Regions from separate parts of the Homo sapiens genome. Here region 1 is linked to region 2. Evidence: fine-mapped expression QTL. A gene starts in region 2. The other region holds a variant in brackets. All regions are shown on one strand. Distances are between the middles of the regions. Region 1 overlaps XPO6 (exportin 6). Region 2 holds the start of XPO6 (exportin 6).

Region 1 (5,375 bases), 65 kb after region 2:
TTGCTTTGCTTGCTGAGCCTCCTGGCTGTCTATAAACCTATGTCTCTGTCTTAATGCTCCTAAGCTTAGTGCGTCCTCACCACTTCCTTCTTGTTCTTGTGTTTTTCATTTTGCCCCTTCTTCCTGAAACTGTGCCTGAGATGGTATACCCTGGGGGGGAGGGCTGTGGACCACAGAGCCTTAAGATCCACCTTCCTTTTGTTTTTTTTTTTTTTTATTTTCTTTTTTTTTGGAGACAGAGTTTCACTCTTGTCGCCCACGCTGGAGTGCGATGGTGCGATCTTGACTTACTGCAACCTCTGCCTCCTGGGTTCAAGCAGTTCTACCTCTCAGCCTCCTGAGTAGCTGGGATTACAGGCAAGCACCATCCCACCCGGCTAATTTTTTGTATTTTTAGTAGAGATAGGGTTTCACCGTGTTGACCAGGCTGGTCTCGAATTCCTGACCTTAGGTGATCCACTTGACTCAGCCTCCCAAAGTGCTGGGATTACAGGTGTGAACCACCGTGCCTGGCCAAGATCCACTTTCTAGTTCTGATTTTGTTCCTTAATTGTCTTGTTACCTTGGGCAAGATACGACTGGACTTGACTTTTGAGCCTTGGTTTCTTTATCTGTAAAAGGGGAAGATGCAAAATATTTGTTCACTTTCCAAGACTTATGAAGATCACATAGACCAATGCAAATGAAAACTAAACACTGTAAACCACTTGGAAGATAGAATGGTATCATTAGTTTCTTAAAGAAACCTGGATTTGTAGCCCTGGAATCTGAAAAGTAAATTGGGGTCTAGGTCCATTTTAAAAATGGGTCTGTGAAGGTTTTGAAAAGTTAGGCGACTTCAAAAATGGAGCCAGCCCATCATCTTGATGACCGGAATGAACCATGTCCACAGCAACTATCAGAGGCCAGGTCATGGGCGGCCTGTGGGCAGTGCACAAGCCCTCGCAGTGGGGCCTGCAGGAATGGATGTGAAAGGTGGTGCTTCAGGTTATACAGGGTGTGTCTGCTCACCTTTCCCCCAGCCTTGAGCATATAGCAAGTCCTCAATTCACATGCATGAAGTTTATATGTATAATTATAAAGTACTTTGACGGAGCCATAATACTTGGATTTATGTGGTAACCTTTCCCAAAGGCACTTCCATATGCATCTGATGAGCTGTGCTCTTTTGAGGGGGCTAGTGGATAGTTTTGAACCAAGGAGGGATAACCTTGGTGATTGACTTGAGGGAAGCTCAGCAAGTTGAACCTAGGACAAGAGTGTGTCTCTTGGATGGGCAAGTCTAGTGGCCTGTCCAAGGACTACTCATATCATTTCTTCTTTTTTTTTGAGACAGGGTCTTGCTCTGTTGTCCAGGCTGGAGTGCAGTGGCACGATCTCAGCTCACTGCAACCTCCGCCTCCTGGATTCAAGCGATTTTCCTGTTAAGCCTCCCGAGTAGCTGGGATCACAGGCGTGCATCGCCATGCTCGGCTAATTTTTGTATTTTTAGTAGAGAAAGGGTTTACACCATGTTGGCCAGGGTGGTCTCAAACTCCTGACCTCAAGAGATCCACCCGCCTGGGCCTCCCAAAGTGTTGGGATTACAGATGTGAGCCACTCGGTCTGGCTGCCGTATCATTTCCATGTGGCTTATTCATTGTTTTTCCTGGTTATTCTCCTGGTTCACTTCATGTCGTGGATATTGTCAGTATTGCCAAGTATGAGGTAGAGACAGGACTTGGTCATTTTGTTTTCTGAGGTTGGTCCTGTCTAGTTCCAGAGCTACCCTTTGGGTCGTGAAGTTGGAATTTGCCTGGCTTTTTAAGTTACACTCTTTTCTTTTTTCTTTCTTTTTCTTCCTTTCCTTTCCTATTTTAATTTTTTTTCTAAAATATACACACCGAGTCTCACTATGTTGCCCAGGCTGGTCTCGAACTCCTGGTCTCAAGCAGTCCACCTGCCGTGGCCTCTCATAATGCTGGAATTACAGGCATGAGCCACCACGCCCAGCCAAGTTACACTTATTCTGTCTCAGACTTCAGCTTAGGTACAGAACTCCCACTGGATACCACCACCCATTGTTAGTTATTTCTTGGGCACCTCCATGTATGCCCTTGTAAACGTCTAGATTTCCATGTGGATCAGCAATGGAAAGAAACTGATCCAAGAAGGTCATGTTATTATTTATTTTCATATTTGATCTTGTCACCAAATATGTGGTCCAGTGAGACAGCCACCAGCAAAACCAAAGGAGTCTTTCAGGTAGTGAGCATTTGAGTGGAGATATCAGGGTTTGGAGCCACAAGTTGAACCTGAATGCATAGGGGAAGGAGTAGCTGTTGGAGATTGTGTTGCCTGGACTTTGCATGAAATAGAGTCTCAGAGCCCTTGAGAAAGTTAACTAGTGCAGTGGTCTTCATTGTACTACTAGGATCCTACAAAGACTTCTCACTTTGTTCCTCCACATCAGCACCTGGTTGGAGGTTGCTATTAGCACGTTTGACACCCTTGCTTTTGCAAATGGGATAATGCCCTGAGGGTCAGACTTAATGAGCTCATTTTCAGTCTGTTCTGTAGGAAGACTGCAAGTGTTACTTTCCTTACATTCAAATGTGTGAACCTGTCACCTTTGGAGCCACTGAAACTGATTTTTGCTTTCGTAATGGTTTGTAATGGAAAGAGCATTGGCTGGGGGTAAAGGGACTTGTTTTTACCTCTGGCCTTGAACAACTTATATCTCTGAATCTCGATTTCTCTCTGGAAAATAGATTTAAACTAGATGATCTGTAAGAGCCCTCTCTACCAGTCTCAGATTTTAAGATAGGTTTTTGCTTGACTTATTTTATAACTCAGTTTATGCTGCACAGTATCTCCCTCATGATGTGTTCCATGGTACCCTTGTCTTGTAAGGTTCAGGAGGGCCCAATGGTATAGACCGACTAAAAGCCACCAGTTTTGGTTACCAGGAAACTGGGGAATCTAGGCTTATGATTTCATCATTCTGCTGGAATTAAACACTGGCATGTGTGTGTTTCTAAGGAATAGTAGCATTAAATAATTTCATTGTCTGGATTTTTTTTGTACCATAGCCTACTCATGAAGGTTACTTCTCTTGTTTGGATATCTGGACGCTGTTTTTGGACTATCTGACAAGTAAAATTAAAAGTCGTCTTGGAGACAAGGAAGCAGTTCTCAACAGGTAAACTCCTCAAACACTGAAAACTAGATATGGTCATTTTGCCAGTTATTCTAGTGGCCTAAGAGACAGCCATGCATTTGGACCTTTTCAGTGAAGCTGAGTC[A/T]TGTAAGCTGTTTAGGCAATAATGCCATTGAGCATTTCCTTTTTTTTCTCCTTTAAGTATTTTGTTAAGACTTTTTAAAATTTTAAAAGTAATATGTATTACTAATTTTTTATATTTTAGTGCATTTGTGTTAATGTTCTTAATTTTTTAATAGCCCTTATTTTAGAGATACAAACTGAAGTATTTATTGGATAAAATGATATGACATCTGGGATTTGCTTAAATAACCCAGTGGGGGTAGAAGGGAAGTGGGTTCCTGTAGAGAAGAAACAGGCTGCCCATGTGTTGGTGATTGATGTTGGAGTTAGTTCCTAGGAACTTGGGGTTCATTATGTTCTTACCCCATTTGTATGTGTTTGAAAATTTCCTAAATAAATTAATAAATACCTGTTAAGAAAAAGGTGTTCATTTTTAAATCTAGGAAAAGATATAGGAAAATGTAAGGAAGATAAACATAATCCCACACCCCAGAGATAATTGCTTTTGCACTTTTTGTTGTATTTTTAAAAAACAGAGAATGCGGAATGGTTTGTTTCCCCCCCCATATGTTTCTCAAACCCATTTTTCTTGCTTGCAGGAAGAGAGTATATTTCCTGTACAATATGTTCTTTGTGCCACAGGGTGGGGAGAAGAGGAGGGGAAGGTGGAGATTCAGCATGCCAGGAAAATAATGGCAGCATCCATATATGGGGAAAGTAAATGTGGCAGCTTTTCTTAGCAGAAACATACCCATCATAGTCTCAGTAGGTGACTGCATCCCAGTCACACAGTGAGCAGGCAGTCATGAAGGAGGCAAAGAAGCTATATTTTGCATTTTAGGATCAGAGTAGTTTCCTAATAAACTAAAACTGATTCGTGTAATTTGTATATTTATGCTATGAGATTACAAACTAGGTGATCTAGCCCTAAGTACTTTATCATACTTAACAGAGTGCCTGCAGATTTTACTCAGTTTGGTTATAGCTCCTACTTCTTTGCACAGTATTTATAAGAGCAATTTCAGATTAGGTGGTCATTGTGTTGTAAAACCAGTGCATGAGGGGGTTCTGTCGAGTGGAAGCCATGACGGGGAATCGCACAGACCTATGTTTGGATCCTGGTTTTGTAGTTCCTACCTAGGGGTACTTGGGTAAGGTACTTAGCCTGTGGAAGCTTCTGTTTCCTCATTTGTAAAATGAGGATGAAAATAATAGTTGTTGAGACATTAATTGAAATAACGAACTAACATATTTAGAATGCTTGGCACACTGCAAGTGTTCACCTGGTGGTGGTGTTAGTGAATACTCTTTCCCCATAAATGTACCAAATGGAGGAAGGTGGAGAGGAGAGACTCCACTGCAGAGAAAAGGTTGGGCTGGAACTCCAAAGGCTTTTCCATTGCTGAGGTTTTATGAGTTTAAAAAATTCTAAACAGGACCTAGATGTGGTAGTATGTACCTGTAGTCTCAGCCACATGGGAGGCTGAGGCAGAAGAATCGCTGGAGCTCAGGAGTTCAGAACTGTTGTGTGCAGTGATCACGCTGTGGCTGGCCACTGCTCTCCAGGCTGGGAACATAGTGAGACTCCTTGTGTCTCTTGGTACCAGTCACTGGTACCATTTGCTGAACTCTGTCTCTATTGAAAATTAAAATAAATAAATATGCAAATATTCTGTTGAGAATTTTATTTTCCAAGTTTAAACATTTGTTCTTTTGTTCCCAAAGATGGTTTTTGTAATTGTGGAATAAGTTCCAGGTTGCTATGGTGTCAGGTCACATGTGTGATTATAGGTAGTACGTTCATATATCAGAAATCGTATTACACACAGGAGATCCTGTTTTTGGTGAAGTTGCCAACTTTAAGTAATTATGTTTTTGAAATGAGATTCTTGAAGGAAAAGTTACTTTTGCCAAAATAATCTTTCTTGCATGCTAAATAGGCATATCTTTTTGGTTCTGGGACTATGCCTCATTTTTCTATATTTAGTGGTAGATATTCCTTCATATCTCTCAAGCTTGTTGTGAGAATAAACTGAGGAAATGATTAATATGAAAATGCTTTTTAAAAAACAGTACAAGGCCGAGTGCGGTGGCTCCTGCCTGTAATCCCAGC
Region 2 (5,375 bases):
GGCTCATGCCTGTAATCTCAGCACTTTGGGAGGACGAGGCGGGTGGATCACCTGAGGTCGGGAGTTTGAGACCAGCCTGACCAACATGGTGAAACCCCGTCTCTACTGAAAATACAAAAAATTAGTTGGGTGCGGTGGTGGGCTCCTGTAATCCCAGCTACTTGGGAGGCTGAGGCAGGAGAATTGCTTGAACCCAGGAGGCGGACGTTGCGGTGAGCCGAGATCATGCCATTGCACTCCAGCCTGGGCAACAAGACCGAAACTCTGTCTCATTAAAAAAAAAAAAAAAGTGCTTGAGGCTGGGAGTTTGAGGCTGCAGTGAGCCATGATCATGTCACTGCAACAGAGTGAGACCCTTTCTCCAAAAACAAACAAACAAACAAACAAACAAAAAACTAAAAAACCCCTGAAAGCTATTGCTTTCAGTGGTAAAGTGTTGTATCAGTGGTTCTCCAAATGTGGTATCTAGACCTGCAGCATCAGCTTCATTTGGGAGCTTGTTAGAAATGCAAATTATTCAGCCCCATCTCAAACCTACTGGATGGGAAAGTCTATGAGTGGAGCGAGTAATCTTTGTTTTAACAGTCCTTCTGGGTGAATTGATTCAGATCACACTGAGGTTTGACAGGAAAGAAAAATAGCTCAGGGAAGTCTGAGTTATGTGAAGTATGCAAAATTTGTCAGGTCCACTGAGACTTGTGTATGGGAGTTCGGGCACACTCCCACCTCCACATGCTCGGGGACAATTGTTTAAAGATATTTTGTTCCAGACTAGCTGCCTCCCCCATTTCCTTCAGGTTCCTGAAATTTGTGATACAAAGAACAATGTATAGGCAATAGCTTATGTTATTTTTTCCCCCTTTCTCATCATTCCTATTCAACCTTATGTTATGCCTCTTTTTTCCTTAGAAACCCACTTGAAGCCAGGCGGGAGGGCTCACGCCTGTAATCCCAGCACTTTGGGAGGCCGAGGCTGGCGGATCACCTGAGGTCGGGAGTTCAAGACCAGCCTGGCCACTATGGTGAAACTCCGTTTCTACTAAAAATAAAAAAAATAGCCGGGCATCATGGTGGGTGCCTGTAGTCCCAGCTACTCGAGAGGCTGAGGCAGGATAATCGTTTGAACCCGGGAGGCGGAAGTTGCAGTGAGCTGAGATTGCACCATTGCACTCCAGCCTGGGCGACAAAGCGAGACTCCGTCTCAAACAACAACAACAACAAACTACACTCTAGTCTGGGCGACAGAGCAAGACCCTGTCTTAAAAACAAACAAACAAACAAGGAAACCCCATTTGTAACTGCCACTAATTGGACTATACTTCTGGTGGGCCATCTTCAAGCTTCGGGCTTGAATAAACCCTATACTTAAATACTATTTTCTCAATCTCGTTATTTAAGGTTGACAAGGGCCATTGGGTTACATAGATTTGCTCCAATCTATGTAGTAGGCACACCCGCGGGCTCAACCTCAGCTGTTTGGGATAGTTTCCTGACTGTTTCTTAAAATTAGCACTTTCAGCCTGGCTGGATGACTCATACCTGTAATCCCAGCACTTTGGAAGGCTGAGGCAGGAAAGCTGCTTGAGCCCAGGAGTTCCAGACCAGCCCAAGCATCAAAAGGAGGCCTCACCTCTGCAAAAAATAAAAAAATTTAGCTGGGCATGGTGGCGCACCAGGAGGTTGAGGCTGCAGTGAGCCATGATTGTGTTACCGCACTCCAGCCTGGGCAACAGAGCAAGAACCTGTCCCCAAAAATAAAACAAAATAAAGATGAGCACTTTCACGAGTAAAGTGGATTGGAGGATGGGAACAGGAATCCAACACATTCTCTGCCTCTCTCAGCACCTTGGCTATCGAAGTTACGTTTATCTCCCCTGTCCTAGCATCCACAGCAGGGCCTGGAATATAGTCGGGCAAGAGTGTGTGGACTGCATGAATGTAAGCTCCATAGGGCCGCGTGTCGTCACGCTGCCAGCTCGATGCTCCGCCCGTAAAAGGCACTCACTAAAATTTTAGCGGAATGAATGGGCGAAAAAAGCGAAAGGGAAACCACGCCTTTACTAAAATGGCAGCCCGGGCTCCCTTTACCAAGATGGCTGCCGGCCCGCGTGGACGCACGGGCGGTGGGCGCAGGGGGCGGGGCAAGAGAGGGCGTGGTAAGAAGGCGGGGCCAGTGGGAGCCGTCAGGTGCAGCCCCGCCCTCCGCCCTCCGCCCGCTCCCCCCGCTCGCCCCGCTCGATTCCGGATTGGTCCGGTTCCAGCGCCGCAGCCCGGCGGCCGCGCTGTGGGGCCGCCCGGCGCTCGCCACTTCCGGCGCGTTGGGGCTGTTGGTCGGGGGCGGCCGCGCGGTACTAGCGGGCGGCTCCAGGGCGGGCGCGCGCAAGGATGCTCTAGGGGGCGGCGGCAGTGGCCGTGTGGGTTGAGGCTGCGAGGACAGCGCGGGCCCCCGGGCCTCTCCCCTGAGCCGGCCGCCTGGGCCGCGCGGTCGAGGCCTGTCAGCCTCCGCCCGTTCAGCCTCGGGGCCGGGGCCGCCGCCACCTCTGCCCGCGGAGGCCGGGGAGCCCCTGCCTGGGCCCGCAGCCTCCCCCGCGGGGGTCGGGCCCGGGCGGGGGTCCCGAGCAGCTGCCCTCCTCGCCGGCATCCGAGCCTCATTTCCTGCTTTTTCAGTTTCCTTGGGGAGGGGCGGGTGGGTCTGGATGAATTGTCTCGGGGTCCCCCGATGAGGCGACCCGGGCGGCCCTGCCCTTTTTAGAGGGTCCCCTCGGGGCCCGGTGGGGAAGGGGTTGTCTTTGCATGGGTGGGGGACTTCCCGAGTCTGCCGGGACCATGACCTGAACTGTGCGAGCGGGACGTGTCCGAAGCCCAAGAACCAGCTCATCTGAGCCGCCCCCTCCCCGGCCAGCATGGTAAGTGGAATTGGAGCCCCCTTCCCTCCTGGGGTGCCCTACCGGAAGGGTGGGAATGGGCCCCGGGGCTGCTGAGCCATCGCTGCTCTCCCCATGGCGGGGAGAGGCGCGTGCGGAGCCTGGCCGGTGACACATGCGTGCAGAGTGTGCAGCCCCGGCCCTGCGCTCCCATCCCCCCAGGGATGATGGCTCAGGCCTGGGAGGGCCCTGGGAGCGCAGCAGGCACAACCCTTGCATCTGGTGTTTGCCTCCTGCAGCTCCTCCGGATAATAACTATCGTTTATTGAGGGCTTACTACTTGCCAAGGCCCTGCGCGAAGTGATTGACAGTGCAGTAGTATTTAATGATCACACCAGCCCTCTGTTCGGAAGTGGGGAGACTGAGGCACGGAGCAATTAATTCCCCAGCTCAAGGTCAAGCGACTTTTTAACAGTGTTAAGATTTGAACCTAGGCATCTGACTTTGAACCTAGGCATCTCTAATACACTTAGAGAGCTGGGTGATTGTAGGAGAAACATCTCATCTAGCTGTAGGTTTATATATGAGGAAACAGAGCGATTTACAGAGGTCACTTGCACAGGTGATGGCAAAGTCAGGAATGGTCGTGATCTTTTGACACTGAGGCTGCTATTCTACATGCTCTGATCTCTGCTGAAGCTACCTTCCACGTTTTCTAGACCGATACTTTCAATACTCCCCTAAATGTGTGTACTCACATCTCTTTGTGTATCCACATCTCCACGTTTTCTAGACCGATACTTTCAATACTCCCCTAAATGTGTGTACCCACATCTCTTTGTTAAGCATTTGCCTTTTTGCTCTTGTAATTATTTCTGAGCCTTATCTGTCTATTGCGGTATACACAGCTCCTTCAAAGACCAAATTGTTTGAACCCTTATCTGCTCCAGCTCCTGGCACATAGTAAGCCCTTGGTAAGTACTGGATCACCTAGCCTGTGGTTGAGCACCTCGAGGAGTGGAGCTGTTCTCCTCAGTTTCACCCATTTTACCCCTGCCAAGTTAGTGGTATAATAGAGAAAGGGACATAGCTGCATCTTTTGTGATACAGACCTTAAGGCCTGTGGAATTTTCGAAACATTCAAGGGGCCTGTGGGTAGTGTGTAGGTCCTGAGATATGGAGCTTACAACCAGCTGGGTAAAGTACACCATTAATGCTGAGCAGCACCGTACAGTATATGCTATACGTATAGTGTATGTGTTTTATTTTTATTTGTTTTGAGACAGGGTCTTGCTTTGTTTCCTAGGCTGGAGTGCAGTGGCACGTTCATGGCTCACTGCAGCCTCGACCTCCTGGGCTCAAGCAGTCCTCCCACCTTAGCCTCCCAAGTAGCTGGGGCTGCAGGCAAGTGCCACCATGCCTGGCTAATTTTTTGTGGAGATGAGGTCTCACCACGTTCCCCAGGCTGGTCTTGAACCTGAGCTCAAGTGATCCGTCCTCCTCAGCCTCCCAAAGTGCTGGGATTACAGGCGTGAGCCACCGTGCACAGCTGAGTCTATGTATTTTAACATATATATTACACAGTATGAATTGTGGCAAATCAGTTAAGCTCTCAGTTCCAATTTCCTCAACTATGAAATTTGGGGATAGGATTTCTCTAAAGAGTAATCTAGAGGTATGAGGTATAACATTTAGTGGCTAATGAAAGTAGCACTCATTCCTTCCTTCATTTATTCTTTCAGTAATGCTTTTTTTTTTTTTTTTTTTGAGATGGAGTTCAGCTGTTGTTGCCCAGGCTGGAGTGCAGTGGTGCAGTCTCAGCTCACGGCAACTTCTGCCTCCCGGGTTCAAGTGATTCTCCTGCCTCAGCCTCCCGAGTAGCTGGGATTATAGGCATGCGCCACCATGCCCGGCTAAATTTTGTATTTTTAGTAGAGATGGGGTTTCACCATGTTGGTCAGGCTGGTCTTGAATTCCTGACCTCAGGTGATCCACCCGCCTCGGCCTCCCAAAGTGCTGAGATTACATGCATGAGCCATCGCGCCCGGCCTCAATATACTTAAGTTTTGTTTTTTAATTGTAGTAAAATATACATAATTAAAATTAGCCATTTTAACCATTTTTAAGTGTACAGTTTAGTGAAATTAAGAACATTCACATTGTTGTGCAACGATCACCACCATATATCTCCAAAGGTTTTTTCCCAAAACAACCTGTACCCGTCTTTTTTCAGTCTCTCCCCTGCCCTACTTTAGTTTCTATTTCTATGAATTTGACTACTTTAGGTAGCTCATGTAAGTGGAGTCATGAAGTATTTGGCCTGTTGTGACTGCCTTATTTCACATGGCACAGTGTTCTCAAGCTTCATCCGTGTGGTGGCGTGTGTCAGAGCTTCCTTCCTTTTGAAAGCTGAATTCCATTGTGAGTATGTGCTGCATTTCATATATCCTTTCATCCTTCGGTGGATACCTGGGTTGCTTCCACCCTTTGGCTATTGTGAATAATACTGCT

The links. PIP is the estimated chance that this variant, and not a neighbour inherited with it, causes the effect.
Region 1: its variant is the best candidate, but not a certain one, in a credible set for the expression of XPO6 in whole blood (TOPMed, PIP 0.61).

Annotation. Positions count from the first base shown.
Region 1 is chr16:28,143,900-28,149,274 of GRCh38, reverse strand. It overlaps XPO6 (exportin 6), which reads left to right. Exons shown (of 24, transcript NM_015171.4): 9 at 3,072-3,181. Among named protein-coding and RNA genes, the nearest start is that of XPO6, 65 kb to the left of the region's middle. RefSeq lists an enhancer at 2,191-2,706. The variant A/T (reference allele first, on the strand shown) is at 3,285.
Region 2 is chr16:28,208,897-28,214,271 of GRCh38, reverse strand. XPO6 (exportin 6) reads left to right here and starts at 2,307. Exons shown (of 24, transcript NM_015171.4): 1 at 2,307-2,906. The coding sequence starts at 2,904. RefSeq lists silencers at 2,070-2,559, 5,070-5,364 and an enhancer at 2,189-3,187.